Homo sapiens: one gene and its partners. The protein of the gene in region 3 interacts with the protein of the main gene of each other region in a pairwise test. Each region holds a gene or a part of one and is shown on either strand. Other genes may lie near its edges. The genes, in order: CEP57L1, TCEA2, CCDC136 and TXLNA.

What was found.
Region 1: the proteins of CCDC136 (region 3) and CEP57L1 interact in binary tests that used the Homo sapiens proteins (3 or more experiments, as listed by UniProt).
Region 2: the proteins of CCDC136 (region 3) and TCEA2 interact in binary tests that used the Homo sapiens proteins (3 or more experiments, as listed by UniProt).
Region 4: the proteins of CCDC136 (region 3) and TXLNA interact in binary tests that used the Homo sapiens proteins (3 or more experiments, as listed by UniProt).

Annotation. Positions count from the first base shown.
Region 1 is NC_000006.12:109,168,498-109,174,937, forward strand, and holds the end of CEP57L1 (centrosomal protein CEP57L1), read left to right. Parts: 3' UTR 1-5,921; downstream 5,922-6,440. UniProt on the Homo sapiens protein: Centrosomal protein which may be required for microtubule attachment to centrosomes.
Region 2 is NC_000020.11:64,059,295-64,066,218, forward strand, and holds the start of TCEA2 (transcription elongation factor A protein 2), read left to right. Parts: upstream 1-3,903; 5' UTR 3,904-4,018; coding exon 4,019-4,090; exon of another isoform or gene 4,091-5,058; intron 5,059-6,924. UniProt on the Homo sapiens protein: Necessary for efficient RNA polymerase II transcription elongation past template-encoded arresting sites.
Region 3 is NC_000007.14:128,815,943-128,822,633, forward strand, and holds the end of CCDC136 (coiled-coil domain-containing protein 136), read left to right. Parts: intron 1-1,815; coding exon 1,816-1,917; 3' UTR 1,918-1,922; intron 1,923-3,188; coding exon of another isoform or gene 3,189-3,369; exon of another isoform or gene 3,370-5,102; intron 5,103-5,856; coding exon of another isoform or gene 5,857-6,148; 3' UTR 6,149-6,188; downstream 6,189-6,691. UniProt on the Homo sapiens protein: May play a role in acrosome formation in spermatogenesis and in fertilization.
Region 4 is NC_000001.11:32,182,667-32,189,694, reverse strand, and holds part of TXLNA (alpha-taxilin), read right to left. Parts: intron 5,171-7,028; coding exon 5,079-5,170; intron 1,742-5,078; coding exon 1,571-1,741; intron 1-1,570. UniProt on the Homo sapiens protein: May be involved in intracellular vesicle traffic and potentially in calcium-dependent exocytosis in neuroendocrine cells.

The DNA of each region.
Region 1 (6,440 bases), on a different chromosome or scaffold from region 3:
CCTCCTCATTGGTTGGATCCAGTCAGTGTTTTTCATAGTACATACAGTCATACCGGTGGATTGTCAAATCAATTTAGCGGGTCACTACCAGCATTTTTTTTTTTTTTTTTTTTTTGAGATTGGAGTCTCGCTCCTTCACCCAGGCTGGAGTGCAATGGTACAATCTCGTCTCACTGCAACCTCCACCTCCCAGGTTCAAGCAATTCTCCTGCCTCAGCCTCCCAAGTAGCTGGGATTATAGGTGTGCACCACCATGCCCTGCTAATTTTTTGTATTTTAGTAGAGATGGGGTTTCACTGTATTGCCCAGGCTGGTCACGAACTCCTGAGCTCAGGCAATCTGCCCGCCTCAGTGTCCCAAAGTGCTGGGATTACAGGCGTGAGCCACCATGCCTGGCCAGCATTTTTTAAATGATATAAAATAGTATTGAAAATATCAGAATGTGGCCAGGTGCGATGGCTCACGCCTGTAAAATCTTAACACTTTAGGAGGCCGAGGCGGGCAGATTGCCTGAGCTCAGGAGTTCAAGACCACCCTGGGCGACATGGTGAAATCCCATCTCTACTAAAAATACAAAAATTAGCCGGGCATGGTGGTATGTGCCTGTAATCCCGGGTACTCGGGAGGCTAAGGCCAGAGGATTGCTTGAACCAGGGAGGCGGAGGTTGCAGTAAGCTGAGATTGTGCCACTGCACTCTAGCCTGAGCAGCAGAGTGAGGCTCCATCAGCAAAAAAAAAAAAAAAAAAAAAGATCAGAGTGCATCACACATAATTAAGGTAGCTTATGTTTTGTGAAACTTTGTGAGTACGGGTTGTCATTTTTAATGTAGCCCTAAATGTTTTTTAGGGAAGAAAAAGTTGGCTTTTAATAAGTATTCAGTGAGAATGAATTTGAAGGGTGTGGAGAAAAGTGGAATAGCCAATTTAAAATAGGAATACTCCCAAGTCCCCTGTTATGGATGTGCCAATCTATTGTTTATCCCAGAAATATTGTTTCATGTGTTTTACAGATAACAAGTCTCATTTTAATCAATACTGTTGCATTTCCTGGTCTATAGAATACAATTTTCAAACACTAGCCAACTTACCTTAGAGAAATACTGGTTTTCTAATGTGGGCAAATAAATACATTCAGTATGAATCCCTTAACAAAATGACCTCATTATGCTACCTCTTGGTAAAATCTAACCAAGCATGAGTCTTATGATTAAGAAAGAAATTTGCTCTGTAGGTGCTTCAGACAGTTTTACAACCAATAAGAATGTGAGATTTGTCGGAGAAAAACTATCTGCATGTCTCCAATCTGAAGAGAGCAAAGATCTGTTATTTGACAAACCCTATTTTTCCGAGCATCAACAGTCAGTGGCACCATGAAAATTAAAAACCTGATAATACCACCAATGTAGTACTCTTTAAAAACATGTCATCTTACTCAGCAATCAACCTGATTGAATATTTTAAAATGAATAAGTGGATAAATATCTTACCTGAAAGATAGCTTCATTAAATAAACTAACTCCTGAGAGGATTTCTTTGGCCTTTAATATCCTATTTAATAGATTTCTTATAACCATATCAGCAAAGCCACTCTGCTCTGGACAATGGTCAGAAGGTAGGAAGAAGTGTTATAGGGTAATGAGCAATAATAAGGCCACCAAATATAATCCCATTGTAATGGGATTCTACCCACTTGTAGAAGTTTATTCACCACTACAAATTACTAAAGTTAACCTAAACAATTAAAGAAAGAAATCTTAGTCTTTAAGAACAGAGGATTGTAAAGTGAGCCAGACCTTCCAATCAGCTAAAATAATGTAAAATAATGTACTTTTCAACCTGACTTGGCTTAATGTAGTTAAGTAAATTTTAGGATAGGTTCTAAAAAACCTTGAGAGGCATTTTGTTGTTGTTGTTGTTGTTGTTAGTTTGCCTTAAAGTTAAATGTACATTGACCTTTGGTATTTCTTAGAAAAACCTGTTACTGAACCTAGTACAGAATGTGAATCATTTCATGCCTGAAATACAAGATTGATGTTTACAGGGCAATTGTCCAGAATCTTGCTGAATTGGAAAGTATTTCACTCTTCATCACTGTAGATCCGTTTAACTTTACAAATGTGTTATTTAAAACATAAACCATTTTGGTGCACAGGAAACCCACTTAAAATTAAATTTTAAAAAGCTCTCGAGAAGTCTGTGGAACATTTATGGTTTTATAACTTACAATTTCTAGCAAAAGTATCTTTAATATCTTACAAAATATTTTCAGAGATAGCTTATCCAAAATATGTAATACATGTGAGAGAATAGCACTGTTGAAATGCTTGAACACATAAAAAGCATTATTGCCTTCATTTTCCCTGAAATGAACCAAGCTACCAATTTAAAGCTGGGAAAGTCAGTACCAGAGTTAAAAACAAGTTACTTTAAAGATATCTGCTTTTACTTTAATCTAAAAAATAATTGATTTTTTAAAAAACTTATTCTATTTTATGTATATAACTTCTCCTTTATAAGCTTAGAAAAATTTATATCAGTATTACATTCTTGATTCTCTCAAGGTATGATTTAAATGGTGGACACTTAAGCCAAAATTTCAAACAGGTTCTTTTTTCTTTGTTCTTTTACAGAATGGCTCTCAAGTCGAAAGAGGGCTGTGCCTTTGGTGTTTGGGTATGATATATTTGCCTGTGATTTCTCATTCTCAGAGCATTCCCATAAATAATGCCACAAAGTAGAGTTTGATTTTTTTTTTTTTGAGACGGAGTTTCGCTCTTGTTGCCCAAGCTGGAGTGCAATGGCGCGATCTCAGCTCACTGCAACCTCCGCCTCCCAGGTTCAAGCGATTCTTCTGCCTCAGCCTCCCAAGTAGCTGGGATTACAGGCATGCGTCACCACACCCGGCTGTTTTTTTTTTTCGCATTTTTAATAGAAACGGGGTTTCACCGTGTTAGCCAGGCTGGTCTCGAACTCCTGACCTTAGGTGAACTGCCCGCCTCAGCCTCCCAAAGTGCTGGGATTACAGGTGTGAGCCACCGCGCCCTGCCTAGAGTTTGATTCTCTTAAACCGTTCTACTAAAATACTATCAGTTTAAACTACCATCTACAGAAATAAAAAACATAAACCACTAAAAGATTAAAGCATTTAGGAGTTTATATGCAAAGAAGTCTTGCAAGGGAGTACAAGCTTTAGGAGGACAGGCTTATCAAATTAAAAAATGAAAAAACCTACAAAATTACCAAAGTCACCAAGTTTAGTTATTCTTTTCATGGTGGAAAACAGTTTCCTCAGATAATCATCATATCAGAGGTCATCATGTATCCTTAGATATCAGCATTGCCAAGACCAGGGATATAGTTATTAGTAATTTACAGGAAAGGCTCAAGGTTTCATTTACATGGGAAATGAGAACTAGACAGTGTGGTGACTGTTTTTGTTGTTAACCTTACCTCAGTGTTTTATCTCGGGTGGTCCCCAAGACCACCTTCAGGATCAGTGATTCACTGGAGGGACTCACAGAACTCAGAAAAGCTGTTAAGTTATGGTTATGGTATATTATAGCAAAAGAATATATATTAAAATCAGCAGCTGAAAAAAGGCACATAGGGCAAAGTCTGGGGGACACCAGGCACAAGCTTCCAGTTGTCCTTCACCTGTGAAGTCATGTAGACAGACCATAATTCTCTCAGCAGACAGACCATAATTCTCTCAGCAACAATGTGTGACAACATTCTTGGAGAATTGCTAACCAGGGAAGCTCCACCAAGCCTTGGTGTCCAGATTTTTTCTTGAGGGTTGGTCACGTAGGCATAGCATGACTGATAGCCCATGTGGCTGACCTTCAGTTTTCAGCCCCTCCAAAGATGGAGCTGATACTACATGGCCTAAGGACTTCACCATTAATCACATTGTTAGCTTAGACTACCTGGTATGGCCTAAGGCCCCCAAGTAAATTAAAACATTCATATCAGGCAGGATAGTCCAAGGACTTAGAGGTTATCTTGAATCTGGACACAGGACAAACATTTCTTTGGAATGTGAAAAGTTTACACAATCAAGACTTGCTATGTTGATCCTTTACTGCGGTATTGTTTTTTGTTTTCTGACCCAAAAGTGATGTGCATTGCTTACCTATCATGGCCTCTGGTTAAGGTGTCAGTCTTGCCTCCAAATTTCCTCCTAAAGCATGGAATTGGCCATAAATTTGCTTAGTGATTTTCTGATTTAGTATCATTAGTTTGATGACTAGTTTTATTATGTGAGTGTGATAAAAGGTTACGCTTAGTATACAAAGACCTTCTTATAAGTCTAGTTAATAAAACTAGGGCCATGTGTTACTACAACATAGGAGTTAACTTTGTCTGGAGGCTTTTTCAAGCCCAAGAGGTTGTCATTTCTTTATGTGTAAGATACTGCCCACATACTATACTGAAGTCAGGAACCAAGAACCGGTCAATTTACCTCAGCCAAGTTGCTTGGACTGCTTTGCTTAATAATGGGTTTGCCATATCTACTTTAATGAGATGTGTGGCATGGTGATGGTTACAAAAGTGATTTGTTAATTATTGCCTGGTAGGAAGGAGAACATGTTTTTTTTGAACCTATGCAAATAGCCACATGTCTGTGAAAAGTAAAGGGATACTTTTGTGTAATATTTAACCATGTATACCATTGTTTGTGTACTTTTTAATTGTGTCATTTTCTACAGTATTATTTTTGCATTTTCCTGACACTGTATTACTTACAAGTTATATTAATAATTTTTATTAATTTTTTTCCTGAATCCTAAAAGGTCAGTTGGAACATGAGACCATTTAAAGAATATTATTTCCTTCCAGTTTATTCAAGGGTGGCCTATTGAGAGTTTGAGATAAAGAAGAAAGGAATCTTTCCTTTCCTTCCCCCTCAGCCCGCCCCCTACCTTTCTTTTTTTTTTTTTTTTCTTTTCAGGGTCTTGTTCTGTCACCCAGGCTGGAGTGGAGTGAATGCAATCAAAGCTCACTGCAACCTCAAACTCTTGGGCTTAAGCAGTCCTCCTGCCTCTGCCTCCCAAGTAGCTGGGACTACAGGTGCATGCCACCACACCTGGCTAATTAAAAAAAAAAAAAAATTTTTTTTTTTGAGGAGACGCGGTCTCACTTTGCTGCCCAGGCTGGTCTCAAACTCTGGGCTCAAGCAATCCTTCCACCTCAGCCTCCCAAAGCTCTGGGATTACAGGCATGAGCCACTGTGCCCGGCAGAATTTTTCTGTGTCCATTAGAAATAGAAATCAGTCACATGCTATGATTTCAATATGTCACTCAAAAGCCATGTGTTGGGGCTGAACGTAGTGGCTCACGCCTATAATCCCAGCACTTTGGGAGGCAAAGGAAGGTGGATCACTTGAGGTCAGGAGTTTGAGACCAGCCTCCAACATGGTGAAACCCCGTCTCTACTAAAAAAAAAAAAAAAATTAGCTGGGTGTGGTGGCATGCACCTGTAGTCTCAGCTACTCATCAGGCTGAGGCAGGAGAATCGCTTGAACCCAGGAGACAGAGGGTGCAGTGAGCCGAGATCATGCCATTGCACTCCAGCCTGAGCCATAGAGTGAGTCTTGGTCTCAAAAAAAAAAAAAAACCTTGTGTTGGAAACCATCTCCAATGAAGCAGTGTTAGGAGATAGGGCCTAATGGATATAAATTACAGTGTCTAAGATGGATACTTTACTCTTTTCTTTTGAGAAGGGAGAGAGTATGTTATGCACTGAGAACTTTTCAGATTTCTTGCAGAGGTCATAATGTTCCAGACAAGCTGGCAGCAATCATTCCCATCCCATCACAGATCCAGGCTTATTTGTAGAATGGTTACACAAACCAAGCAAAACCTTCTGTAAAGTTTCTACCCTTTGCTCTAAAGTTACATAAAAACAATTTCCAAGTTTGTTCACTGTGTATATTTTGTTCTTTTTCATGGTAGATTTGTCTGTTGGAGTTAGATATCCCTAAATAGTGTGTTCAAATGATGTTTTTTTCTGACTGTTCAATCTCCAGCATATTTCTGAGGGAGAAAGGACATTGACTTTGGAGAAAGAAAGCTGTGTAATTACAAATGGACTATTACAAAGAACTATGCCTTCCTTTTTGAGGAGAAAAAAGATGGTTTTTAAAAATTAATACGCAGGCTGGGCGTGGTAGCTCACGCCTGTAATCCAAGTCCTTTGGGAGGCTGAGGTGGGAGGATGGCTTGAGCTCAGGAGTTTGAGACCAGCTTTGGCAACATAGTGAGACCTCATCTCTACAAAAAAAATTTAAAAATTAGCCAGGCATAGTGATGCATGCCTGTAGTTTCAGCTACTTGGGAGGCTGAGATGGGAGGATTGCTTGAGCCCCAGAGATGGAGGCCGTGTGAACCATGATCATGCCACTGCACTCCAACCTGGGAGACAGAGCAAGACCCTATCT
Region 2 (6,924 bases), on a different chromosome or scaffold from region 3:
GACGCCTCGCACTGTTCCCTCCCATCTTGCCCGACCGCCCCCCACCAGCTCCCAGGCCCAGTATGTCTCTGTCCCACCCCATCGTCTCTATAGGCCCTGTCCTGCAGTGGGTTCTGTCCCTCCCTGCAGCTTGGTAAGGTTGTTGAGGCTTCAATACACACTCCAGACCACATCCCTCTCCCTCCCAACTCTGGGACACTCTCTGCACCTCTGAAAAGAAACTCCCAGCCCTTCTTGTGCCTCTCCCTTCCTCTGGGCACCCCTTGTTCCTTATCCATCCTGGCTGGCCTGTGGCCTGTACTTCTGATCTGCACACAGGTATCACAGAGGACAGAGACCCCAGGGCCCCAGCCCCTGGTGGGGGCGGGGAGTGCAAGGGGGCAGTCGTCTTTGTTCTCGACCAGCTCCCAGCTCCCTAGGTAATGCTTTAAGAGTTACCGTGCTAGGGGATCTTTGTGGCTGAAAACATTCAGATGAACCAGATATTTAAAAGCATCCCTCATGCAAAGTCCCTCCACTGGTTGGGCCGGCCTGGGGAGGGTCAAGGCTGGGTCTCTAGTCTGGTTTTCCGGGGGCGTCTGTGTGCACTCCTTCCCCAGAACCTTGCGCTTGTCCATCCCAGGGAGAAATCAGGTGGGGAGCGGCCTCACTGCTGGCTCCTTGATAGTGACTTGCTCCAGAGGTCCGTGCTGATACCCCAGACCCCGCCCCACCAACACTTCAACTGGGACTGCGGCGTATGCACAACTGCACAGCCTCCTCTGGCAGCTCCTTGATGCTTCTGGGACGTTGACCCTCTCTCCTTTGCACCTCCACTCTTAGGAACTTGCAGCTCTCTGGGGTTAGTTCTCCTCTGTGCTGTCTGGGCTGCACCTCCTGCCCAGGAGGGGCCTCTCTGTGCTGCAGCCCTTACCAGCATCTCAGGATCTGCAGTCCTGATACTTGGAGGTCTCCCCCCCACCCCCAGCTTGAGGGCTGGCTTCCTTTCGGTGGTCTTCAAATCAACTCACACTCGGCCGTTGGAGAAGCCTATGTGTCTGGCCAGGCAGGCTCCATGGATGTGGCCAGTGTCTTTGTGGACGGTGGGAACCAGCTTTGAAACCCTGGCCGCCCGGACCTCCGAAGCCAAACTTTCTGGGGTTCCTGCACAAGGGCAGTTCCAGTGTGGCTTCTACAGGACCCTGACCAGCTCCTTGGTCTGGCTGTCAGCCATTGAGACAGTGGTTGAAGGCTGGGTGGCTCTAGCCTCCCCTCGTGCCTCTGATGAGGCTGGACCCTTCAAGTCTTCATATATGCCCAAACCATGGGATTCTGACCACGAGGACTTGCTTGGATGGTCTAGGCTGGAAGCTATGTCCCCAGCTCACTGTGAGGGGCAGAATCAGTCAGTATGGAAACCGTGTTCATCTATTAATAATAATAATAATATAATATCGCGGGGCCTCTGTCTTAGAAAGGCTTTGCTCCTCACAAGGAATTCTATGCTTTTTCCCTATGATTGAGCTTTTTTTTTTTGCGACGAGTCTCACTCTGTTGCCAGGCTGGAGTGCAGTGGCATGATCTCGGCTCACTGCCAGCTCCGCCTCCCGGATTCAAGCGATTCTCCTGCCTCAGCCTCCTGAGTAGTTGGGACTACAGGCGCATGCCGCCATGCCCGGCTAATTTTTTTTTGTTTTTTTGTATTTTAGTAGAGACGGGGTTTCACCCTGTTGCCCAGGCTGGTCTCAAACTCCTGAGCTCAGGCAGTCCACCTCCCAAAGTGCTAGGATTACAAGCATGAGCCACCGCGCCCAGCCTGAGTCTTTTTTTTTTTTTTTTTTTTTTTGGAGACAGTCTCACTCTGTCACCCAGGCTGGAGTGCAGTGGCACAATCTGGGCTCACTGCAACCTCCGCCTCCTGGGTTCAAGTGATTCTCCTGCCTCAGCCTCACAAGTAGCTGGGATTACAGGCATGTGCCACCACGCCCGGCTAATTTTTTTTTTGTTGTTGTTTGTTTTTGAGATGGAGTCTTGCTCTGTTGCCCAGGCTGGAGTGCAGTGGCATGATCGCCGCTCACTGCAAGCTCCGCCTCCTGGGTTCATGCCATTCTTCTGCCTCAGCCTGCGGAGTAGCTGGGACTACAGGCGTCCGCCACCACGCCCGGCTAATTTTTTGTATTTTTAGTAGAGATGGGGTTTCACCGTGTTAGCCAGTATGGTCTCGATCTCCTGACCTCGTGATCCGTCTGCCTTGGCCTCCCAAAGTGCTGGGATTACAGGCATGAGCCACCATGCCCGGTCTAATTTTTGTATTTCTAGCAGAGACAGGGTTTCACCATGTTGGCCAGGCTGGTCTGGAACTCCTGACCTCAGATAATCCGCCCACCTCAGCCTCCCAAAGTGGTGGGATTACAGGGGTGAGCTACTGTGCCCAACCAAGATGAGTCTCTCTCTCTCTTTTTTTTTCTTTTGAGACGGAGTCTCGCTGTTGTTGGCCAGGGCTGGAGTGCAATGGTGCTATCTTGGCTCACTGCAACCTCCGCCTTCCGGGTTCCAGCAATTCTCCTGCCTTAGCCTCCCAAGTAGCTGAGATTACAGGTGCCCGGCACCACACCTGGCTAGTTTTTGTATTCTTTGTAGAGACGGGGTTTCACCATATTGGCCAGGCTGGTCTCGAACTCCTGACCTCAGGTGATCCACCCGCCTGGGCCTCCCAAAGCGCTGGGATTACAGGCATGAGCCACTATTGCCCGGCTAAGATGAGTCTCTTAACTGACCATATTTTCCTTTTCATTTTGGCTGCGGGGAAGCTCAGTTATATGTGATTAGTGCCACAGACAGCCCAAGAAATGCTCAGCCCATTCCACCTGCCACCTGGCCTCATAGTTCGTTGGCCTGAACTTGAATGACTACAGGCTCCTTGATCCACACCCTCCCCCAGGATTGTGCCCTCTCCAGGAAACCACCCAGCATCTGCATTACTGGGGAGCTGCCAGGCAGTGGTGGGGATGCTGGCCCTGCACCTGTCCCCGTCCTCAACCCTCCCTAGGCCTGGGCCATCTCTCTGGCTGCCTGCAGTCTGGCCCTACCTAGGGACCTCCAACAACAATGTCAATGAACACTAATTGTCATGCTCCATCCCCTCTCTGTTCTCAGGCATGTGATGTGAATCAGCTGACATCATCTTGACGGGAGCCCTGTGAGGCGGACACTTAACTCCAGTTTCACAGGTGGGGAGACTGAGACACAGTGGTCAACGTGCAGAGCCCAGAATCTGCTCCCTGGTAGCTGACTTTGCAGGCAGGGGCCTTGCCCACGCAGCCTCGGCAGAGGCCCCCGCACTTCGCGAACCCCAGCAATGGCCCCTTCCAGACGCCACGTCCAGCTACCGCGCGCTCACACCTGCAGGGCCCCACAAGAGGCCTCCCAGTGTGCGCGGGCCTCTTGAAGAAGTAACTCTACTCAGAAGCCCGAATGACCCAAACTGGGCTCTGGGAGGCTGGGGACGGCCTTCTAGGCCAAGTGGGGCGCGCGCAGGGCTCAGCGGGGCCCAAGAGAAGGGCTGAGGGCACTGGGTCCTGAGCCACCCACCGAAGGACGCCGCGGGACAGCAAGGCCCGAAGCAGGAGGAGAGAAGGGAGCAGATTCCTGGGCCTCCTGGGGCCCGGTCGCTCCGGGATGTCTGAGCTCTGGGAGGGGCGTGCCCGGGGCGCCTCCCTCGCGGGGTATTGTGGGATCACGAGTCACTGGCGACGGTGGGTCAGGACTACACTTCCCAGGAGGCTGTGCGCGCCGCGTGGCGCCTGGGAGTTGTGGTCCAGAGCGCGGGCGCGGCGGGCGCGGCAGGCGGGCGCGTGGACTACGCATCCTAGGATGCCGCGCGCGGCCGCGGGGCCGAGGGTTTGAACCGGGGGTCTGTCGTCCGCGGCGGGGCTGCGTCGGCTGCGGCGGGTGTGGGAGGTGGCGACGGCCGGGGCCGGGGTCCTGCCCGGCTGCGGAGGCGGGCGCGACGGGCGCGGGGGTCGCTGCTCCTGAGGCGATGATGGGCAAGGAAGAGGAGATTGCGCGGATCGCCCGGAGGCTGGACAAGATGGTGACCAAGAAGAGCGCGGTGAGGGGCGCGGGCCGCCAGGACCCCGGGAACCCCGCCCCGCCGAGACCCCGTCGAGCCCGCCGACCCCCGTTAGGGCCGGAAGACGACCTGAGGGGCAGGACGAGACCCCTCCCCGGCAGAGACTAACCGGGACGCAGGGGAGACCCCCACCCGTGGCCGAGACCCCTGCCCCGGGCCAGCCCTGCCGTTCACTCCCGCAACCCCGGCAGAGGCCGCGATCAGGCCTGGACCTTGTCCCGGGAGAGCCACCCGCTCTGGACTCAGACCCCTCCCTCGCCCGCAGTCACAGGCTCCGCACCCTTCCCTGTCCCTTAACTCCAGACCCCCAGCCTGGCCCGTCGACTCCTTCCTTGGCCCTGTCCCGCCTCTCGGAGCCCCCGGGGTGTTCGGGCCTCCTCTGCGGGCCGCGCCAGCCCCTTGCCTTCCTCCATCCCGGCCTGGGCATCCTCACAGGCCGAGCCCCGCCCCCCAACTCAGCCCTCTCCCACGCTCCGTCTCTTACAGCGTTTGTCACCCTCCGTCTCCCATAGCATTTGTCGCCGGCAACAGTTTGGAGTCTGAGGTTGGATCCCCTTTTCTTCTGGAGCTTCCGTGCCTCCCCTGCCTCTTCCCAGCCCTTGTCATCCTCCTTCACAGGCCAGCCAGATACCTGTCTTGCCTGTGGGCCCATTTTCTTCCCTGTCTGTCCCCACCCCACAAGAACCAGGTTTCTCTAATAAATTCTCTCCCTTCTTTAGCCAGGACTTAGCCCGCAGCAACTTGGGTTGTGGGTAGTTATGTGGACACCCTCCGAAAAGAGCCGGTGTGCTTATATAAGAGCCAGGAGGTCGGGCAAGCCTCCTCTGGGAGTGTCTGGGCGCTGGAGCCTCTGGCCGGCTCTGTTCACTGCGGCCTGGGCCTCTGTTGTCTTGCGGCCACAGCGAGACTTTGGAGGAGGCTGTGTGTGAGGACTTTGAAGGGGCCAGGTCAGTGGGGGTCCAGTTCCAGCGTCATGACCTTGGCAACCTCTGCACCCTCCCACAGAAGCATCTTTAGAGGATGCTGCCTGCCTCCTGGGGGGTGGGGAGGGGTCTGGCCGCAGGTCATTTGGAGCTCCTGGCTGGCTCAATAAACGTGACCTGTGCTTTCCCACCCAGACTGTGAACTCCTGGGGCAGGGCCAGCTGTGTGTCTGCCAGGCCAGCCCAGGGCGGTGAAGGTGGCTGAGTCATGGGCTTTGGGTGATTTGTGCAGCCACCCCAGGGCTGTGTGACTGCAGTGGGGGTTTGGGGGAAGCTTTTTGGGCTGAGCAGGGTTGAGTCTGGGTTCCTGTGACCAGCGTTCTGGACTGGGGTCTGCCCTGGGAAGGGGTGGGCTCCCACTCATTCCTGCTGGGTGCAGCACCCCCATCATTGCGTTCACACACACCCCGGAAAACTGGTCAGCACAAAGTAGGGGTCTGCGAACCATTCATAGCTGTTTCCAGAGATGACCCGAGAATGGAGTTGTTCCCCTTCTTAAAGGAGACAAAACACAAACGATAAAAGCTGTAGGTGGGAGAAGCAAAGATGGGTCATGGAGCCAGGGGAGGGCTGGGTGGGGCTGGGCAGAACTGATGGGGGGTTTCTGGTGGAAGAACAGCTTGAGTAGAAGCCCCAGGGGAGAATGAGGAGGGGAGGCGGGCGCTGTGCAGTGGGGAGTGGGAGCCAGCAGAGCCTCCTGGGGGTCCCAGTGCCTGAGGTCCCCTCGGGGACCTGGGGGCCAGGTGTGGGGGTTTTTTTGCCTCTGGACCTGAGCCCACTGAGAGCCACGTAAGCAGGTGCAGGGCTTTCAGGGGACAGTGGCCTTGGCTCTGGCTATCACCTCAAGGCTGGACTCTGTACAGCCCAAGAGGCAGGGCCTGCCTGGGAGGGCTCAGGAGGGGCTGCAGCGTGAGCAGACTATGCCACCCGGATTGCTGGGGTTGTGCGGGCGGTAGGTGGGACAAGCCCCTCCCATGGCCTGTGGGTCGTGGGACTCTGATCAGGTCACCTTAGGGCAGAGGGAATGATACACACGTGGAAACACATGCACGTGTTACAGAGGAGATGGGGTGTTGCAGGGCACAGTTGCAGTTTTAAACAGGAGAGGCCTTGCTGAGAAGGTGTTGTTGAAATAAAGCCCGGGAGGGAGGGAGGGAGGGAGGGAGACGTTGTGGGAGGCCGCCCCAGGCGGTGGAGCTGCAGGTGCAGAGGGCCTCGGTGGCGGCTCAGCGCCCTTGGGGAGCACTGAGTTGCCGGGCCTGGTGTGGAAATGTGACCGGTTTGTGCCTGGCCTCGTCAGTGTTGAGGACCTGGAGGAAACGCAGATCTTGGGTGGGGAGACAAGGCGGAGAGAACGAGGTGCATTGGAACAGTCCAGGCGAGGGGTGCTGGCCTGCTTGGGGGCAACTCAGAGGCCTGGAGGATAGATGAGGAGGGGGGCTGTGGGCCTTGTAGGTGTTGGCTGTGGCCGTGCCTGGAGTGGAGGGACCCTTGAAAGTTTGGCCTCAGCTCGGGACACTGATGTTCCCGGGTTGGCCCTTCATGAGAGTTTGGCCTCAGCTCGGGACACTGATGTTCCTGGGTTGGCCCTTCACAGCTGGTGGGCGGGGGGTGCTTTGGGGAGAGGCTGCCCTGCGCATCAGGGCATCAAGACACAGGGGAGTGAATGAACCTGGGGCTGCAGTTTCACCTGGGTGTGGCCCTGGCTGCTGGGGAGGGGCCGTGGCTCTGAAGCCTCATGATTGGCCAGGGGAGCTGGCATTTCTGTTCTGGTTTGGGTCAGTGACCTGAGGTGGTTACAACGAAGTCAGTGAGGTCATTGCCACGGATG
Region 3 (6,691 bases):
CAAAGCCTAGATCAAGTGGGAAGTGGGGTCTTGGGCTCAGATAACTCCGAGTTAATGGGTGGCCCTGCCAAGGATGGATATCTCCAGGAGTGGAGGCCTCGCGCTCTAAGGCACAACCCTTCGGGGAGGTGGAGATGCAGAAGTGGGAGATGAGAGCAGTCTGTCTGCACGAAATCATGGGCTCAGCCCCGTTTGCTGTGGAACCACCTCACAATGACCACCTTTTCTGGGAACCAGCGTGGGGTCTCTGGAGTCCTTTCATTTACGTAGTAGCCTTTGTTACCTTCCTTATGTCGGGAGTGTTCCCTCATCCCTCTTTTGGCACTGCAGGAAGGACATTGACAGTGTGAAGTCTACTTCAGGCCATTTCTGTCGGTCTGGGCAAGTCACTCAGTCCAGTTTTCCTATGGTGCCCTGTTAGGTTTAACCTTTGTTGTTGCTGTTAGGGGTGTGTCAGGGGATAATCTCTTCTTTGTAGGCTCATGTTGCCCCCTGGATTCTGTATATCACAGGACATGAAGGTGGGGCCTGGAAGTGATCAAGAGTGATAGTGAAAATATTTCACATCTGTACAGTAGGAGCATAGACTAGTCCAAGGAGACCATCCCTAGCCTTAACCCTTCAGTTGCTAGATCATTGAGAGGTTGGGGTGGAGGTATCCTGGGATATATATGCCAGAATGCCAGAGGTAACTTACCAACAATATAGAAGTACTTCCATATTTTAATAACTGGTACGTCTCTGCAGGTATGTAGCAACTGAATTCTTGCCCTGGACTTAACTCAGGGCTCAGAGTCCCTACAGAGTTAGAGTATTTCCTGTGTAAGTCCTCAGCTTACATTACAGGTTCTTTCTGTTCTAAACAGAGGTAAAGAAAAAAAGCCTCTTGTGGTGGGATTATCCAGTCAACTCTGAGGATATCTGGAATTTCCAGCAATTTGGTCTTCAGCACTGGCTAAGGATCCAGTGTGCAGTGCTCTGCTTACCTTGTGCCAGGGGACCATTACCTAAGATGTGGAAAGTCGGAACCACTGCAGCCCCTCCCACTATCATGTTTCCTTGAGCTCATCATATTCCACCACGTGCTGGTTCAGAGCCTCACAGATGTCTTTACCTTCGGTGCCACATTTCTAAAGCTAGACCTGATTTTTCTACTTCAAATATATTCTATGTTTCTATATATGGAGAGATCCCTTTGCCCCGTGGGTCCTGCGTCTTTTGCAGGCAGCTCTAGGGCATGTGTATTACCACCTTGCAAAATCGGTTTCTCTCTGGAAGATTGTTGCAGTGAAAGAACTAGCCCTTCTCCATTGTCAGTTTGTTTCGGTGCATGTTGTCTTACAATGATATCATTAGATTCCTAGGGGATCTAAGGGACCAGAGCCCAAAATACTAAGAAACTTAATGGAAAGCAGGCTAGAACAAAGGGACAGGTGACCTGGTAGAAGACTGGCTCTTCCTAGAGTGACCTAGGAAAAGTCACAAGAAAGGTCTAGATGCAGATACCTCCTGCTTGACAGGATATGAGAGGTATGTGACGAGACAGAAAGAAAACTGGACTCACCGCCTGACTTGGACCTAGCTGCTGCTTAACCCATTCAATTTTGCAATTCCTGCAGACTGCCGGTGGAAAGAACCAAGGCCCAGGCAGCAGAAAAGACATGCAACTGCTCTAGCTTACCTGTTTTTTAACCTCTTGATTCCTTTCTCTTTTCCCTTTGTTTTCTCATCTTCATTATCTGTTGGATCCATGCGTTTATGTCTCACATCTCCTGGTCTCTCCTCGTGCTTCTTTCTCATTTTGGTGTGTTGCAGTCATCCCCTACCCCCAATCCCCCCATCTTCTCCTTGCCTCTTGTAGGCCTGGTGGTCATCTCGGCTTTGCTCTGGTGCTGGTGGGCTGAGACGTCGTCCTAATGCAGGTACTGGTATTGCTTCCTCTCCTTCTGAGGGATAGAGGGAGGGTGCAGGTTGCCCTGGCCTCTCCTCTTTCCCTTTTCTCCCAGCTGCTTGCTTCTTGCTTGTGCCATTTTATAATAGGTGATGCTCAGGTCTGAGTTTTAGTTCTGACTTTTCCTTGGGCTACTGCAAAGCCTCTGACATCTCTGAGCATGTCTTCGTAATGCATAGGAGGTTGGAATGCTTGCCAGAGACATGGTTTGTTTCAATCCTTGGCTGGGAAAAACTTGGATAAGCCCAGCTTGGTTGCTGCTGTCAAAGCTGCCTCACTACTTCTTTATCCCCGCTCATCCTCTGTGTGATGGCTAGCCTGACCACTTCTGATGAGCTGATATTTGCAAGGCTGGCCTGGACTCTCTTTGTCTTGGTTTAACTCCGGAGCCAAGTTCTCACTACTGTTGCTACCCAAGATGGCAAAATAAGGAATCCCTCTTCTGTTGGGAGAGAGAGGAGCTCTGAAGAGCTCTGATCCTCATGATCCTCCCAGGGGCATTGGTAGGAGGGCAACCTAAGCTGGTCCATCAAGCTTGGTGAAATGGAACCGAACCCCTACTGTATTCTGCTCTTTCTACTGAACAGTTCTCTGCTTCTGGACTTCCAGTCTCCGGAAAAGTCAGAACAGAATGCCGGGAAATTTTATTAGTTATCTATTTATCTATTTTGTGGGCCAGATTCCATGGTAATTGGCTTCCCCAGCTAGGTTTTCTGGAGAGAATGAGGTATTAGTGAAAAGTTTCTACTAGCCAGAGATGTGTGTTCTCAGGAAATCAAGACTGATATATTCTGGCCACTTTCCTGTCAGCTCCCACACATGTAATGTACACTGTCAACAGGATACCAAATTCAGGAGGCAGAATGTGGTCTTACGGCCTAAGGTAGAAGCCTGGGGTTCCACCTGCCTTCTGGAACCCATAAGGTATTCTCTCTAGTCCTGCATTGGCTCCTCTCTCATGCTTTCCCTGCCTCCCCCTCCACTCCCCTCTCTTCTCACATTCCTGTGAACGGAATGTAGCTTAATGCACAGGGTGGCAACTGGAGGATTTGTTGGTGGCACTTCTCTCCATTTCCTTTTCTGTCCTTCCTCCTGCTCCCTCCCCAGCTTTCCTGTTACTCATCTTCAAGCCTCCACTTTTCTTCTTGACTTTAGGTATTCCCTTTACTCCCTGGTCCACAACTGCTTTAGTGACGGGGCCCCTCTCTATGACTGTTTCTCCCCTGTCACCCCCCAGAAGTCTTAAGGCACTACGGGTGAAACCCAAAGAGTTCAGCCACAGCCTTCCACTACCTCAGACCCAGCCCGGCCCAATCAGAGGGAGAGGAAGAACTGCTGGTGAAGGGTTCTCCTGGTGGGGCCTGTTATCCCCAGAGCTCCAGGAGGCCCCAACATGCACCTGTGCAGCCAGGACCTGAGGGAGCACAGTGTGGTAGAAAGCGTGGCTGCCAGGCGGTCAGAAGAACTTGGTTGAGTCTGTCTCTACTGACAGGCGTTGTCCCAGGGAGCAAAATGCACACTCTGAGCTCTAGTTTCTTCAAATGTAAGCAAAGGATGATCGAACCTCTGCCCTCCTCACAGGTTTTTGTCAGGACCAGATGGGTTGAAGTAGATGAAAGTATTCTATAAATTATAAAATACCCCATCATTAATAAAAAGAGCACGCACTTACAAAATGCAGTCTTATGTGTCAGGCACTGTTCTAATCACTTACGTATATTAACTGATTTAATCCTTGCAACAACCCCATGAAGAAGCTACTCCTATTTTTTTTTATATATGATTAAACTAAGGCATAGAGAAGTTAAGTAAAACAGCCAGGAAGCTGCGAGTCAGATTATAAGGACTCAATATTAGCAACAAATAAGATTCCAGTCTTGCTTCCCTTTATTGTCTCTCCTCATTTTGAGCAGTTTCTCTTCATTGGTCCCAAGTAGGAAGACACCATACTTGTGTTTAGGCAACCTCAGATCACATTAGCTCTTTAGGTAACTAATATATTATTTATTTATTTCATGTATTTTTTATAAGCCCCTCTGCAGATTGTGTATGCTAAGCGTCCTCTCCCCATTCTGTACCTGCATTTGATTTTGAGGCTTCAAAGGCAGAATTTTCCATTCTTCCCTATTATAGTTCATTGTTCTTACCTTATAAGGTTTTGTGTGTATGTGTTTTTAATCTTGACCCTGTGGTTTTAAAATATTCACTTCCTCTGCCACCTTCACATCATCTACAGGGGTGGCAAGCCCTCCTTCCCTGTCTTCATCTACAGAGGACAGAGTGAGGACAGAGCCTCTAGAGTGTCGTCTCTTGGGGTTCTTTTATTCAGCTCATTGGTCACTTACCTGCCATTCAACAAACTGTACTGTCATCCTACCCTTATTTCTGCATATTATCTGCAAAGATCATAGAAAATTCTGTCAAACAACTCAACGTCCAAAAACATGATTCCGGTGATTTGTCACTTAGGTCACCTAGTTTAAAAGGAGAGTTTGACACGACTTCCCCTTTGGGACACCCACACCAGCCCTTTCCCCATCCCATGTAGAAGCTTGCCTTTGCCCAGTGTGAGGTGCACGGGTCACATTTAAGGATTTCAGCTCCTCCCTCCTTTAAGAACACCAGACTAACATTCTTAGCAATGCACATTAGGATAGAGGCATCTGAGCATATAAATATTTTTTTCTAGCTAGCTCCCTTCTTAGTTTTTGTTTTTGGTTTTAGAGACAGGGTCTCGCTCTGTCACCGAGGCTAGAGTGCAGCGGCATGATCATGGCTCACTGTAACTTTGAACTCCCGGTCTCAAGCGATCCTCCTCCCTCAGCCTCCGGATCTCTTGGTTTTCTTACATGAGTTACTCTGTATATCCACCTGTAACATTGCTTGGCTTTCCATTTCATACCTTCTGTTGTTCTTAGTAGCTATTTCTATAAGCTCAGGAGATTTTCTTTGCTCTTTAGCAGGCTTAAAGTCCTCTTTTTAGATCAATTATCATCTGAGAAAATGTGTTCTTAGCATTAATGGGCTATATTCCATTTTTACTTGAAACCATCCTTCTGTTACCTATGCCATAGCTTATGACTCAAAATCCAAATTCTACCTTTCAGTTAGTAGAGTAAAAAAGTAATAAAAATAAAACCTATTTCCCCAAGTATGTATTTTCTTGTCTAAGATTTTCATATTACCTAATGGATGCTTTTTGGATATCTTCGATGGTGCCACTTGTCCCATGAATCAGCAGGGTTCCCTAGTGGCCGGCAGTGTCTGGAAGCCTCAGCATACTCTAGCACATGCACCAGGAAGTCAGTCAACATACCTGGTGATTAGGAGTGTTCTAATGACCTAGGCCCAGTGACAGGTTTCCTTAAATTTCCTTGAACCAATGTCATTCTCTGTCAAAGTTTGTCTGCCTAAGAACCTCCTACTTACCTGCACTCCGTGGTGCACTTTCTTCATTTCCCCTCAGCCTTATTCCCCCTTCCCCATCCTCTTGACTCTGAGTTCACTTCACTGCAGTGAAACTAATGAGGTGCTGCTGCTTTTCTCAAAGCCCCAGATTTCCCCTCCTCTTTCTTGCCATGGCATCCAGTCCTTTCTCATTGCAACCACTTGGAAGTCTGGCCCCTGAGCCTGCTTCTTCACATGGGAGCTAGTATTCTCAGCCCATGGGGAGAAACGGAGGCCTGAATACAGGCGGTCACCTAAGGTGGTGCGTACAGTGTTGGGCCACATGTCTAGTGGTGCCAGGACTGAGAGATCACTTACCTCCACCGGTTACCCAGGAGGTAACAGAGACTGATCCACAATGTTCCTGAGGTGTCTTGGGCACCCATAGGCAGGTGACTTCTGGCTTAGGGCAGGGTTCAGGAGGCTGGGCACTCACAGTTTCTCTTTGGTCCCCACAGAACATGTTTGGGTTGTGGAAGCCTATGGTATTCTTGGCTATTGCAGCTGTGGCTCTGTATGTGTTACCCAACATGCGACAGCAGGAGTCAGAGTTCTGCCTCATGGAGTGATGGCAGACCTTGGCCAGCGCGAGGGCAGATCCCCAGTGGCCACCACCCTCAGCTTTGGGCAGGACACACTGTGCCAGAACCCTCCCCATATGTTCCATGTGTCCCCATCTCCTCAGCCTCAGTCACCCAGGCTGAAAAGGCTTGTGGGGAGCGGCTGACTTCCATCTCCTGCCTTGTGTAAGAACCTGAGTTCCTTGTAATTAAATATCAACTGAATTACATGAGACTGTGGATTTTTATTTGCTAAATGCCTCACAACACAACCAGAACAGAGCAGTCCCCCTTTAACCAAGTACCTCACATAAGGGTCTGACTCCTAAATGCGGCTTCTCACCTTGCAGATGGCCTCAGAAATGAGGCTAGCCCCTTGTGCTGTCGACTGACTCACAGAGGGGTTAGTCTGTGCTTATTAACCCCATCCTGAGGTGCTCTCCTGAGCATGGAGAAATGGAGTGACTGAGGGCTGGGGAGACCTCCCCTAAGGTTCTGTGCCCACACCTATCTACATGAGAAGGCCGCCCTAAGAAGATCCACGTGTGTGCCTTCGTGACTTAGCCTTTGTGACTTCTCAAGGGATTCGCCCTCAGAGATGACTTTAATCAGCCAGGGTCCTGGCAGTAAACAGGTGGCACACTCAAAGCTTTACATGAAGAGAGTTTAATGAAGAGACTATGTACCAAAGGCAGAGTTAGGAGAAGCAACAAAAAATAGTGAAGTACCAGGC
Region 4 (7,028 bases), on a different chromosome or scaffold from region 3:
TGTGCACCTGTGGTCCCAGCTGCTTGGGAGGCTGAGGCAGAGGAGTCATTTGAACCTGGGAGGCGGAGGTTGTGGTGAGCTATGATCGCGCCACTGCACTCCAGCCTGGGCGATGGGCCACAGAGCAAGACTCCGTCCCCAAAAAAAAAAAAAGGAAGAAAAAATGCAGGCACACATGCACACATGTAAGTGCTAAGTGCCATTCTGAAGCAAGTCGGATCTCCTAAGGCCTATTCTTCCAGATTTCAGATTAATGTGCATTTGTCCCCTCTGTACCCCCAGAGACCAAGCTGTTAAAATTTAGTAACACCCAGGGTTTGCAAAGTTGTGCAGAATTAGGCACTCAACACTTTTGATGGGGAAGGCACACTGCCCCCTCACTGGAAGGCAATCCAGCAAAATCTATTAAAATGAAAAATCTGCATATACTGTGACCTAGCCATTTCAATTCCATGACTTATCCTACAGATAAGTTCTATATAACTGACCAGTGATAAATATAACAAGAATTTTCACTATAGTTCTATATGTAATAATGAAAAATTGTAAACAACCCCCAAAATGCTTTAACTAGGGCACTGATATAATATATCCATATAATGAGAAGATAGCCCTACACATACTGATAGGGAAAAATGTTATGTAAAGTGAAAAAAAGGCACAGGATATGAAATGGTACATGTATAATAATTTCATTCTAAAAACTACATGTAAGATTTTACATATAAAAAAGAAAGTTAAAAGGCTGTATTTAAACTTGGTGTAACCACAGACTGACCTCACCATAGAAGCAGCAGAACATGGGAAGGACCCAGGTTCCTGACTGACCAACGTCTGGGACAAGAGCTGCTTGTCAGAGCCAGGCCTCCGCTTACCAGGGGACTGTCATTTCATTGAGAAATACTAACGCCAGTGCATTATGGATTCTCTTAGTACTTTATCCTTCACCTTATCTAATACATGTCAAATGATTACAAGCAGTACTCTCTTAACGTAAGGCATTATTGAGAAAGTGTATTTCTATGCCACAAGCCTGCACTACTTTTTTTTTTTTTTGGACACTGAGTCTCACTCTGTTGCCCAGGCTGTAATGCAGTGATGCAATCTCGGCTCACTGCAACCTCAGCCTCCCAGGTGCAAGCAATTCTCATGCCTGAGCCACCTGAGTAGCTGGGATTATAGGCATTTGCCAGCACACTCGGCTAATTTTTGTATTTTTAGTAGAATGGGGTTTCACTGCGTTGACCAGGTTGGTCTCAAACTCCTGGCCTCAAGTGATCCATCCACCTCAGCCTCCCAAAGTGTTGGGATTACAGGTGTGAGCCACCACACCCAGCCTTGCTTTTTTACACTGATTTCATGTTGAAATTGTAATGTTTTGGATATTGGGTTAAGTATATTACTAAAATTAATTTCTGTTTTTTAGTGGCCAGAAGATTTTTAATCACTTATGTGTGCCACTGCGCCTGGCCCTAGCCTGCACTACTTTTTAAGAGGAAAGCCCATGAAAGAAACATTAAGTGGAAGTCAAGGAAACCAGAGTCACCTGTTCCAGGGGGCCCAGGCCTACCTTGAGGGAGCGGTTGTGCCGCTGCAGCTCACGGCATAGGCTCTCAAGCTTGCTGCGGGCCAGGACGGCCTTGCTGTGCTCACCGCGCAGGTGGTCCTTCTCTTGCACCAGCTGGCTCTGCTTTTTCTGTAGGAGCTTCATCTGCTTCTGTGAATTCCGGTGCTCCTCCAGCTGGGGACAGGGATAGGGAGGGCAGGTGAGCATCTTGTGGGGCCTTCCTGGTGGGGGGATCACTATGCAGGTCTAGGGTCTCCTGAGCTGCCCTGACCCTTACCCTCTCAGGCCAGGAGCACTCTCATGGGCTGATGCTGTGCCGGTGCTTACACGCTCCTCCCATGAACTCACAATAACCCCAAAGGCTCCACCGTAGGGACAGAGAAATGGTAACTCACTAGGGCAAGCAGGGGCCACACAGCCAGCAGATGCCAATTCCTATTCCAGCTCTGACTCTGGGCCACTAGAGCCACTTCAAGCTGTTGCATTTCCCCAACTTGCTGGACACTCATGCCCGAGGATGAGACCACCTGCTACCGTACCTTGTGCCTATTAACAGACAGACCCCCATCGCTCCCTCGCATTCCTTCAAAACGTTAGCGCTGCGTTCATCAGCGCTCTCCCCAACACAATTACTTTTCTCATTTGTGGCCACTTCAGTATCAACAGATAATCCTTCTAACTCCCTGGCCTCACAGTCCATCACCTCTTCCACAAACCCACTCCTTTCCCCAGCTCAGTTCCCCTCCCATGACCCTATCCAGGCCTGTACAACAGAAATATAATGCAAACCACATAAGTAATTAAAAATATTCTACTGGCCGCACTAAAAAAGTAAAAAACAGGTGAAATTAATTTTAGTAATATATGTATTTAACCTAATATCCAAAACATTACAATTTCAACACGGAATCAATGTAAAAAAGTGAGGCCGGGAGTGGTGGCTCATGCCTGTAATCCCAGCACTTTGGGAGGCTGAGGCAGGCAGATCACTTGAGGTCAGGAGTTCAAGACCAGCCTGGCCAACATGGTGAAACCGTTTCTACTAAAAAAAAAATACAAAAAAGTAGCCAGTTTGGTGGCATGCGCCTGTAATCTCAGTTACTCAGGAGGCTGTGAGGCAGGAGAATCGTTTGAACCTGGAAGCAGGACATCACGCCACTGCACTCCAGCCTGGGTGACTGAGACACTCTCTCACAAAAAGATGTTTTATATTCTTTGTTTTTGCTTAAGTCTTCAAAAGCTGATGTGTATCTTACATTTATAGCATGTTCAAATTCAAACTGGCCACATGTCAATTAGCTAGAGACGAATTTATCTTGGACAGCGCAGATCTAGACTTTGTCACTACCAGAGAGCACACCCACTATCTCAATTTCCAGCATCCCAGTCCAGGACTACCATCACCTATCTTTTTAGCTCATTCCAATCAGTATCTGTGATCCTCAGAAAGTCTCTTACCCTATAGGACCTCCAATCCATTGACTCAACCATCCTTCCACTCTCCTTTAAAATAACTACATTACCTGGCTTGGATTTCTTACACCCTCAACTCTCTTGGCCCTTCCCCAGTAGTACTGCAACCCTAGTAAAGCACCTTCCTGCTTTACACCAGTACTATAACAACCCTACTTGAAGAGTCTCACTTTAAATTCATGGCCACCAATTTCAGGAAGACCAGCAATCCCAATACAATGCATATGCTATTCACACTCCTCTCCTTCCAGACAACTATTTCATCGTTCTCATCAAATCTCAAAACACAGAAGAAACTAGAGAATCAGGGGCACAAGCTGCACATCTACCAGTCCACCTGCCCCGTCCTCTCCTCCAGTCACACAGACCTAGCCATGTGGTTACCACAGCCAAGCCCCCTTCTTGGGCAGGCCTCAGCTCCCCTCCTCTACTCACAACACCACTCTAGCAACTCATTTCCTCTCTTGCATCAGCAATTTTCCCCTGGCTGGATCACTCCAAAAGGGTGCTTATCTTCCTTATACCTTTTATTTAATCCTTACAAGAATGTCATTAGGCAGGTATGACATTCCCCATTTTAAAGATGAGTAAAGTTCCTTACAGGAAAATATTAATAAATGTGTGTGGAATGAATTAATTTTAAAATAAATACTTAGAGGCCAGGCACAGTGGCTCACACCTGTAATCCCAGCACTTTGGGAGGCTGAGACGGGCGGATCACGAGGCCAAGAGATCAAGACCATCCTGGCCAACATACTGAAACTCTGTCTCTACTAAAACATACAAAATTTAGCCAGGCATGGTGACATGCACCTGTAATCCCAGCTACTCGGGAGGCTGAGGCAGGAGACTCGCTTGAACCTGGGAGGTGGAGGTTGCAATGAGCCGAGATCGCGCCACTGCACTCCAGCCTGGTGACAGAGCGAGACTCTGACTCTGAATAAATAAATAAATAGGCCAGGCGTGGTGGCTCAAGCCTGTAATCCCAGCACTTTGGGAGGCCGAGGCGGGCGGATCACGAGGTCAAGAGATCGAGACCATCCTGGCTAACACGGTGAAACCCCGTCTCTACTAAAAAAAAAAAAAAAAAAAAAAATAGCCTAGCATGGTGGCGGGCGCCTGTAGACCCAGCTACTCGGGAGGCTGAGGCAGGAGAATGGCATGAACCCAGAAGGCGGAGCTTGCAGCGAGCCGAGATCGTGCCACTGCACCCCAGCCTGGGCGACAGAGCAAGACCCCGTCTCAAAAAATAAATAAATAAATAAATACATACATACATACATACATACATACATACACAGGCTGTGACCATCAATGGATAAATCTGTTAGTTCAAATTCTGACAAGGGACCTGATGATGGAAGAATCTGGCTGCCCCACCCCCAACCCACTGAACAATGTTACAACAAAGTGGGAAGAGCATGCTTTGCATTTATTGTGATGGAACATGAAGTACTTATGAAGAATTCTTGTCAAAAAGTTGAAGCTGAATTGGATCAAGCTTTAGAGCTAACTTCTACTTCACTTACATGTACCAGGAGGTAAAGAAGTAAAATGATACCACAGAGATGACAAAGCTAGAAGGGGGCATCCTACAAGACAGCTAGTCTAGTTTCTGTTAAAAGTCAATGTCATGGGGAATATGAGGAGGCAGTGACAAGAAGACTGCTCTGGAGTAAAAGGAAAAAGTATCAAGTGACTAGTGTTAGTTTTATTAACTGTGATAATGGCTCTATGCATCTGTATTTGAGGAAGAAGCATCAAGATCACAAGGTGTCTTGGACTCAGGCCAGGAACAAGGGCTCTACCACCTTGGAATCATTCTTTGAGAAATTTCTTTCAAGGAATATGCAGTTTCTCCTCTTGCTGCACAGCCCTGAAGAGGCTGGCTGGAAGTGATTCCCCATTTAACAGATAGTTCAGAGAAAAGCTGAACAGGAATTAAGCCACCTACTTGACTCTGCACCCCCAACCTTACACCAGGTGGCATGCTGATTTTCCCAACGCAGGGAAGGTGCCCGCGGAGGGGGGAACTGACCAGTTCAGCATACTTCTTGCACAGAGCAGCCAGCTTCTCCTCTGGGGTACTCAGAGTATTCAATGTCTGCATCAGCAACGTGATCTCCTTCCCTGAAAAGCACAGGAGCAAAGACATGCACCCTCTTCTCCAGGTGTCCCCTCCAGGCCTGGGCTCACACTCATGAGTGCTGAAGACAGCCCTCCCCATCATACTTTATATTTTGCTTGTTGATTAGCTGCCTTCCTTGCCATAAGGACCAACTCAATCCTGCCCTCACTATAGCCCCAGTACTGTCCATAGTACCATCACAGAGGATATGCTCAACAAATGCTTATCAAATGAACGACTGTACCCTAGTGAAATCTCCTTAGTAGGCACCATTGGCAGGAGAAAAAAACTGCCTGCTCTACCAATAGAAGAAAGGTGTCCCACTTATGAATTCAGGGCTACTGTTTCATACTGTTTCAATGCAAGGAAGGCCCACCCTCCTGATAGAGGTAGGATCCAAAAAGGAATAGGTATCTTAGCCTCCTTGAGAAATACTAAACTCTTGTCAACAGAGTAGCCAAACAGTGAACTTTAAAATGAAGATACTTTCGGCCAGGCAAGGTGGCTCATGCCTGTAATCCCAGCACTTTGGGAGGCCGAGGCAGGCGGATCACGAGGTCAAGAGATCGAGACCATCCTAACATGGTGAAACCCCATCTCTACTAAAGACATACACAAAAAAATTAGCTTGGTGTGGTGGCACGCGCCTGTAGTCCCAGTTACTCCGGAGGCTGAGGTAGGAGAATCGCTTGAACCCAGGAGGCGGAGGTTGCAGTGAGCCCAGATCGCGCCACTGCACTCCAGCTTGGTGACAGAGCGAGACTCTGTCTAAAAAAATTAATTAATTAAAAAAAAAAGGCAGGGTACAGTGGCTTACGCCTGTAATCCCAGCACTTTGGGAGGCTGAGGCGGGCGGATCACGAGGTCAGGAGATCAAAACCATCCTGGCTAACACAGTGAAACCCCGTCTCTACTAAAAAAAATACAAAAAAATTAGCCGGGCATGGTAGCAGGAGCCTGTAGTCCCAGCTACTCGGGAGGCTGAGGCAGGAGAATGGCGTGAACCCAGGAGGTGGAGCTTGCAGTGAGCCGAGATCGCGCCACTGCACTCCAACCTAGGGACAGAGCGAGGCTCCATCTCAAAAAAAAAAAAAAAAAAAAAAGGCAGGGTACGGTGGCCCACGCCTGTAATCCCAGCACTTTGGGAGGCCCAGGTGGGCGGATCATGAGGTCAGGAGATCGAGACTATCCTGGCTAACACAGTGAAACCCTGTCACTACTAAAAAAATACAAAAATTAGCCGGGCATGGTGGCAGGCGCCTGTAGTCCCAGCTACTCGGGAGGCTGAGGCAGGAGAATGGTGTGAACCCGGGAGGCGGAGCTTGCAGGGAGCTGAGATCGCGCCAGTGCACTCCAGCTTGGGTGACAGAGCAAGACTCCATCTCAGTTGGGGGTGGGGGGTGAAGAAGATGATACTTTCCATGTATGTGACGTTAAGATTTTTTCCTTTTTCTTTTTTTGAGATGGAGTCTCACCCTGTCACCCAGGCTGGAGTGCAATGGCATGATCTCAGCTCACTGAAAACTCTGCCTCACGGGTTCAAGTGATTCTCCTGCCTCAGCCTCCCGAGTATCTGGGATTATAGGCACGTGCCACCACGCCCGGCTGATTTTTTGTATCTTTAGTAGAACTGGGGTTTCACCATGTTGGCCAGGCTGGTCTCGAACTCCTGACCTCATAATCTGCCTGCCTTGGCCTCCCAAAGTGCTGGAGTTACAGGTGTGAGCCACTCTGCCTAGTCGTCCCTAAGATTTTTTAAAGTTCCTCTTTAAAGTAAGAGGATACATAAGGGGAAAAGGGAATAGGAATAAAACATGGATATAATGACACTCGACTTAGATTCTAGATTCTTTTTTTTTT